Homo sapiens: one gene and its partner. The protein of the gene in region 2 interacts with the protein of the main gene of each other region in a pairwise test. Each region holds a gene or a part of one and is shown on either strand. Other genes may lie near its edges.

Evidence for each region. Proteins that work in one complex are often made in the same cells at the same time.
Region 1: the proteins of HEMGN (region 2) and PTPRJ interact in a two-hybrid assay, tested with the Homo sapiens proteins (one large-scale study listed by BioGRID and IntAct).

What each region holds. Positions count from the first base shown.
Region 1 is NC_000011.10:48,123,518-48,127,171, reverse strand, and holds part of PTPRJ (receptor-type tyrosine-protein phosphatase eta isoform 1 precursor), read right to left. Parts: intron 3,560-3,654; coding exon 3,302-3,559; intron 2,205-3,301; coding exon 1,986-2,204; intron 1-1,985. UniProt on the Homo sapiens protein: Tyrosine phosphatase which dephosphorylates or contributes to the dephosphorylation of CTNND1, FLT3, PDGFRB, MET, KDR, LYN, SRC, MAPK1, MAPK3, EGFR, TJP1, OCLN, PIK3R1 and PIK3R2. Plays a role in cell adhesion, migration, proliferation and differentiation.
Region 2 is NC_000009.12:97,935,988-97,939,741, forward strand, and holds the start of HEMGN (hemogen), read right to left. Parts: upstream 2,186-3,754; 5' UTR 2,150-2,185; coding exon 2,071-2,149; intron 278-2,070; coding exon 184-277; intron 1-183. UniProt on the Homo sapiens protein: Regulates the proliferation and differentiation of hematopoietic cells. Overexpression block the TPA-induced megakaryocytic differentiation in the K562 cell model. May also prevent cell apoptosis through the activation of the nuclear factor-kappa B (NF-kB).

The DNA.
Region 1 (3,654 bases), on a different chromosome or scaffold from region 2:
CTTGTGCAAGGCATCATGGGGGGTCTTGCCACATGGGCTGTGACCGGGTTCCACTATGAGCCAATGGGCAGGCCCCTGAAGGGCCACAGGAGAAAGGAGTCAGTGCCTTCCTCCATCACCTCCTGCTCTGGGCCTCCTGTCCTGACACAGCTGTGTCCACCACTGCCCCAGCTCTCACTGGGCTCCAGAAACACCCTGTCCTCCTCTAGCCCTTCAGCCCTAGAGGTGGCTTTCTGTCGTGTCTTGGGTGCCTCAACAATGTCCTCTGATGGTTTCCTTAACCCTGCCCCACCTAACTAGTCACTTGAAAAGTGCAGGGTGCTCTGGGGTGGGTGGAAATGTGTGTTTATCTGTGTGTGTGTGTGTGTGTGTGTGTGTGTGTGTGTGTGTGTGTGTTGCAACAGACTGAATGTTTCTGTCCCCATAAAATTCCTATGTTGAAATTGTAACCCCTGATGTGATGCTTTTAGGAGGCGGGGCTTTTGGGAGGTAATTAGATCATGAATTACCTCCCTCCTGAATGGTATTAGTGCCCTTATCAAAAAGGCTGGAGAGAAACCACGCCCTCACCCCTTCAACCACGTGAAGACCCAGGGAGTCTGCAACCTGGAAGAGGAAGAGGGTGTTTCACCCGGAGCCCAGGCATGCTGCACCCCAGTCTCAGACTTCCAGCCTCCAGAACCCTGAGAAATAAATGTTCATTGTTTACGCCATCTAGTGCATGGCCATTTGTTACAGCAGCCCAAACTGACTAAGACTTATCTATACACACACACTCGCCCCTTATAGAGAGGGAAAGGCTACTATAATGATTATTTACCAAGCATGAAGACAGTTCAACCCAAAGCAGGATGTGTGTGAATTCACACCACCAAGAGCCTGAGATGTAATCACTACTACTTTGCTTTTGCTCAAACTGCTTTAAAAAGCAGGGACCCCAGGCCCACACAAATCTACAAGTCCTTTTAGCAAATCAGTCAAAGGGACCTTCCCCTGGCTGGACCCAGCCCTGGGTGCATGGCTTGACGCAGGGCACACAGACCAGATTTCAGCCCCTTTCACTCTCTCACGCAAGCTTACCATGTGCAGGACACCCCACCACTGCCAACCGCACCCACATAGGAGCCCCTTCCTCCTCCTCCAACTAACCCACCCTCTGGAATCCAAGCCCTCCTCACCCGAGAGCCTCCCACCTGCCACTCCTGCCAGGTCACTGCAGGCCCCATGAGGTCAGGCAGCCTGTCCTACGGCCGCATCCTCCCCACCCACTCCCACATTAGCAAAACAAGTACAAAGGGAAGGAAGGACACAAATGGACCCTCCTTCAACATGGATACCAGGAAAAACTGTCATTCCTTACAGAATGGCTTCTCACCAATGTCTTGCCAAAACTTCTAGCCCTGTACAAGTAACACAGCCTGGCCAGTAACTACCTCTAAGTATTCCCAAATGTGTTCACCTCCCGCTCTTTTCACCAAAGCCTCCAAATATTGGTGAACTTACAGAGTGAAAGTGCTGATAAATTATAGCGAGGAAGCAGCAATGTGCATGTCAACAAGCATTTCAACAGAAAGATCGGTATGAATTACAAGGCGGGTGAAAAAATGAAACTCACTTTCATAACTTTCTTAACTCAAAGCAAAGGAAAAACAAGCAATGATTATTTGTTTTTAAGAGGAAAGTATGATGCCAGTTTGTCTCATCAGCCACCACGCAAAGCTGTGAAAGATGGCGTGAGGCAGTGCCTGGTGCCCGCACACAGGGGCTGCTCCATGTATTTGATTTCACTTAATGAGAGATGTGCACTGCCCATGGAGTTAAGAAGAAACTGAGCAGATCTGCTCTGTCCAAAATCTCCTCCAGGAAGCTCCCTCTGACATCAAAACTAGCTGTTATGCAAGAAATCACTCAGAATCAGAATCACAGGAGACAGAACATTGTGCTAGGAAACTCTGGCTGCCACCATTTTACAAAGTTCAACCTACTTGTCCTGAACTCTATGGCCTGGGGCTGTCCTTCTGTGCCATTCGCTGCTTGGGAATAAACGGTGGCATTGTATCGGGTGCCAGGCTCTAACCCGACAAGCAGGACTTCCGTGTCTCGGGACTGCTGGCCGGAGGATGGGTCCACAGGTCCCACGAGGGACTCATCATGCACAGGGGCGGTGGGGCTCCCTGCCCGGCTTCTCTCTGTATTGCTGGCATCTGTTTCAAGCACAGGAGACAAAAAGACATCAACCACAAGAGGGACACATCCCCCATTTTCCTTCGGAGCCCCAACCCCATCAGATGGCCATCAGACAGTGGCCACAGTTGGTGCTCCATCAATATCTGCTCCCTTCCTCCTCCAGAGAGAGAGGCAGCCCCATAAAAAGGCCTGATAGCTCCATCTCCATTTGTACTGTTATTCCAGTAGCACCACAGATATCTGGTGCTTCTCTTTCAAACTCTGCTTATTTCAGGTCATTCTCCCTTCTTTGGGTTGTTATCTTCTCCTGTCCCAGCATGGATTTCCAGGGACAGCTCTGTGAAGCAGACTTTGCTAATCAGACCCCACTCAAGACACGTTTCCCTGGACCAGACCCTGGTTGGTGGGGCAGCTGGCTGGTGGGGCAGCTGCAGGGTGTGAAACAGGAGCAGCTGGGCTCCTTAAGTGTGCAGAGGGAGCTGCTCTGAGAATGAAGCTGATGAACAGAAAGAAGCAAGAGGGAGGGATGAGAATTGCCTCATCTCTTTCTCTAAGGCCTCCCGCTAGCAGGAAAATCCACATGAGCCAATAAATTGTTCCTTCTGTCTGAGCTATCCAAAGTCTGGTTTCTGTCACTCGCAAGCAAGGATCCTGACACCCACTCTGTAGCTCTGTTTTCTTAAGTATAAAATGCAGATTAAGTGCCTGTCCTCCTCATGGAGTTATCCTGGGGATCCTCTGCAAATGCTATGAAACCTGCAAATGACAACGCCAACATCAACCAGCAGACGTGATAAGTTCCTCTGAAGGCCCAACTTGGGTTGACACAGCTGTTAGATAGAAAGCTAAAGGGGCCTCTAACTTTCCTGGGTGCCAGACTCTAAAAAGTTTCAATTCCTATTGCTGTTCTCAGCCCCAATGTGTTCCCCTGTAAAATCAGAACACGTTTCCTTCCTTCCTCATGCAGGTGGGGGATCAAACTAAAATGTGGAGGAAAAGCCCTTTATAAATTCTAAATCTCCATACACATGGAAGAGCAATTTATTTTTTAGAACATTTAGTTACTGAAAGTAAGAACCAGTAAGGGAGACGGAAGGTACCCTTTGTAACTCACCCAAGCCACCTTCTGTGCCCAAGGGGTCTCCCTTTGTCTTATTTGATTGTAGAAGATACGGGTTGATGTTGTATTGAACCCCTGGCTTCAGGCCCGAGATATTGACCTGAAGTCTTGAGTCTTGAGTCAACTCCTCATGGCTTCCAATGCTTTCAAGAAGAACCCGGCAGGAGGCAGTGCCATTGCCATTGCTCCAGGAGAGAGCAGCCTTCCTCACACCCGTGAGGGCAACACGGAGATCAGAAACTGGGATCGGCTCTATTTTAAAAATACAACATGCATTAATGGAACAAGATATATGCAGTCACCTTCATTAAGAATGACTGGGGTTCAGTGCTGGGAGCGGGTTTTAA
Region 2 (3,754 bases):
TAGGCAAGAGGTGTAACTCACTGGAGGCTTAGTCTCTGTTTTTCTGTAAAATAGGGATAACCATGTCTGATTTACAGGATTGTTGGAAAGATAAAATACAGTGTGTAAAGTGCACAGCACTACTTTATGCATAACATCCTCAATAAATATATTAGTTCCCTTTCCCTTGTGATGCTACCATACCCAAATAGCCATTGTGATGTTTCCTTTTCATGCACTTCAGCTTTTCTTTTTCTAAGTAGTTCTCTGTTTCTCAAACTCCAGGTTCCAATGACTTCTGTAATAAAATGAAAGTGATTAGAAAAAGTGATGAACTGTGGTGTCTATCAGCAAAAGTCCTGTAGCCAAGTGGCAGAGTCTCTGTTCTAGGTTTTTCTCCTAGCTTTTTGAGGACAAGGACTGCATCTCATTTATCCTTGTATCTCCAGAGAAAGCCTGGAAGCAGACATTCAGCAAATGTTTTTGAATGAAAAGGTCAGAGACCTACTCCTACATAGTATTTGTACATAAGTGTGCTACCAACCTATTAATTTCTTCAAAGTAATTTTATATATTGTACAAATAATGAAAAAAGTAGCCATATTTTGCTGTCTTTAACATGATAACTTGTTTTCATTTTATTCCTCACTTCTATCCAGTCTTTATATTACACAAAGTTGTAAGAATAGCATACCACAATTTTAATCTTTTTATTAAGCTAGCGTTATATTAGAACTATTTTCCATGACGTAGTCTTCATAATGATAATTTTAATGACAATGTGATACATAGTCTAGTTGATGTACTCTCATTTACCCAATCATTCCTCTTGGATTGAGCATTTAGATTGTTGCTAGTTATCTTTGCCTTGTATATCAAATTATAATAAGCATATTCATTGCATATAGCTTTTCTTTGGTATTTTTTCCTTAGAACGGTGTTTTTTCAAGTTCTTTGGAAAATTAAGGGTTTGATCAAAAAAGTTTCTGCTGCTGTCTAAGGTTGAGAAAAATTGATGAGTCTTTGATGCAGAGCTTCCTAGAGCCTGTGAAGTGATACAAATCCACACTGGGACCTCTAAAGAATAGAGCATGCCCCTTGAACCATGGTGCCTCTTGTTCTTGGGATAAGGGTTCTTAATAGGAAAAATTATATCTTTATTTTTACCAACCTCTAATTAAAATTGACAGTTCCTTCAATTATGAATGTAGATAACAAACCACAGTAGTTTTGGCAGTATATGACTTTTTTTTCAACTTTTATTTTAAGTTCAGGGGTTCATGTGCAGGATATGCAGGTTTGTTACATAGGTATACATGTGCCATGGTGGTTTGCTGTGCAGATCATCCCATCACCTAGGTATTAAGCCCAGCATCTATTATCTATTCTTCCTGATGCTCTCCCTCCCCCTCAGCATATGACTTGGTCCCTATAAAGAAATCACATATTTTTTTATCACATTATAGTTGTTGCAGATACCTTAAAATATCACCTACTGGCTATGACTTATTTGACTTGATACTATTATTAGACCCACCACTGGATATTGTAATCTATAAATAATCATATATATTACTATATAATAATTTTTTATTTTGATATTTGTATCTTAATGTAATTATTCCCTTTCTAGTCTTATATATTTAATTTTATGCCTTTAAAAATTTTATTCAAAGAAGGAGTCTCTGGGTTCATCAGAATGCCAAAGAGATCCATGTAGCAAAAAAAATTTAAAACAATGTCTTAAGGTATCTCAAGGCCTAAGTTTCCACAAAACATTTTGAGAAATGTTGCTTTAGGATAGATCCAAGGACTGAGATTAGTGAGTCAAAAGAATAAGCAGTATTATAGCTCTCACCACTTATTGCCAGATCTCTTTCCAAACGTTAGACCAAATTTGTGCTGCCATAGAAATGTATGAATCCACTTGTTTTACCACAGCCATCGAATGAAATTATTGGATGAACTAGTCTCATTAGCTTTCATTTATTTCCTTTTTTTTTTTTTTTGGCCAGATCCATTGAAAAGAGAAAATTATCATACCCCGAATTCTTCTCAACAGCCACCAGCTCTTAAGGTATTTTTCATTACCTGGAGAATGGTTCTCTTCTTGATGAGGGTCAGGTGTCTGATGGTGCTTCAAATGAGATTGGTCCTTTCCCAAATCCATCTTGCTGCAATACCTTCCTGCTATTTTGGTCTGACTTCCACAAGCAGCCTAGATGCTTTTTTAAAATATCAAAAACATCTAACACTTAAAAAAAAAAACCACACACACAAGTTTGCCTGTCACTTGACTTCCCGCCTAAAAGTTTTATCTGGTTGGACCACAACTGCAGGCTAATTCTACTATCTTTATCACACTGCACAGGTGTGAGTAGGGGAAATGGCTGGTGCTAGCAACCCCTAGCATAGGTTGCTATTTATACAGGGAAACTCTCTGACCACAGCCTGGCATGGCACAGCCTCTAGTCAGCACTCTTTTGGTTCTATCTGCCAGGAAGTGTCTGGATCCGATGTTCCTTTTTACAGATGGAGGTAGCCTAGTGTAGAAAGAACACAATCTAGGCCCCAACCAGCTCAGTGGCCCAGGGCAAGTCACCTCCCTTTTCTATGACTCTCTGCATTTGCAAAATGGGTAAATAATTCCTGTCTTGCCTACTTCATACGGTTCTTGTGAAAGTGAAAATAATAGATATAAAAGTTTCTAGAAAGTGTGATATATATTAATCTTACATGGTTTCCTGTATGTAGCTTTTTTCACCTTAATCTGTTGCAAAATAATGTACAGTTTTGCTGTGTATGCTGTTAGACTTAGTTAAGAAATAGACATAAAGAACCAAATTAGAATTTCACAGCAATTTTGTACCCTTTTTGGCTCACCAAATCATTCGCAAGTGACTCAAGATAACTAGTGAAATCCATTGTTACTCATATAGGGGAAGGTGAAAAATTACTTCTTAATGAAAATATCACCACATTATATCCCAGAAATTAAGTTGAAATAATCAAAGGAACCATCCTATCTCCAAGCAGTAACCCCATTTGTGAAGACAAGGAGCCACAGACTACTATGGTTCAACTAAAGAAGAAACCCTGAGCACCTCCTGATACAGGAAGCCAGTCTGGGAGATGCAGGATTAATATATGTGTTCTGGATTCAGATTGAATTGAAGTGAGTTTGAATTCCAGTGTTGACATTCCCTAATTCAGTGACCTGAGGCAGGTTAGATAGCCTTGGAGTCAATTTACCTATCTATAACATGGGGACAATATTGGTATCTACCTCAGAAAGTTACTGGGATGATTAAGTCCAGTAATCCATATGAGGCATTTTATGTGTGCCTAGCATATTGAACTTGGTCAGTAAATGTTAGCTACCAATAAAAATACAGTAACCAGATTTTGGTAAAGCAAGTCATAGTTTAAATGCACTAAAGAGAGAATCTGAAGAGGATTCTTTATAAAGAAAGACCTTTGTAATGTGAATAGATACCCACTACTTCCATGGAGTCTTAAGGCATTAGAACTGGAAGAGCCCAAAATCATCTAGTCCCTGCCTATTTTGTATACAAAGAAACTGAGAACCGAGGAGGAGAGTTACCTATACTTAGTATTTTATTACTTATTGCCAGCAGCATCTCTTACAGATTAGGAGATGGGTCATCATTTTGTGTGCTTGATCTTTCCTGGGTATAAAAATGTGTGTATCATGTAAATATATTAGAGAAACAAGCTGTCAAACACACTAAAGGGTATCGAGAATGATATAACA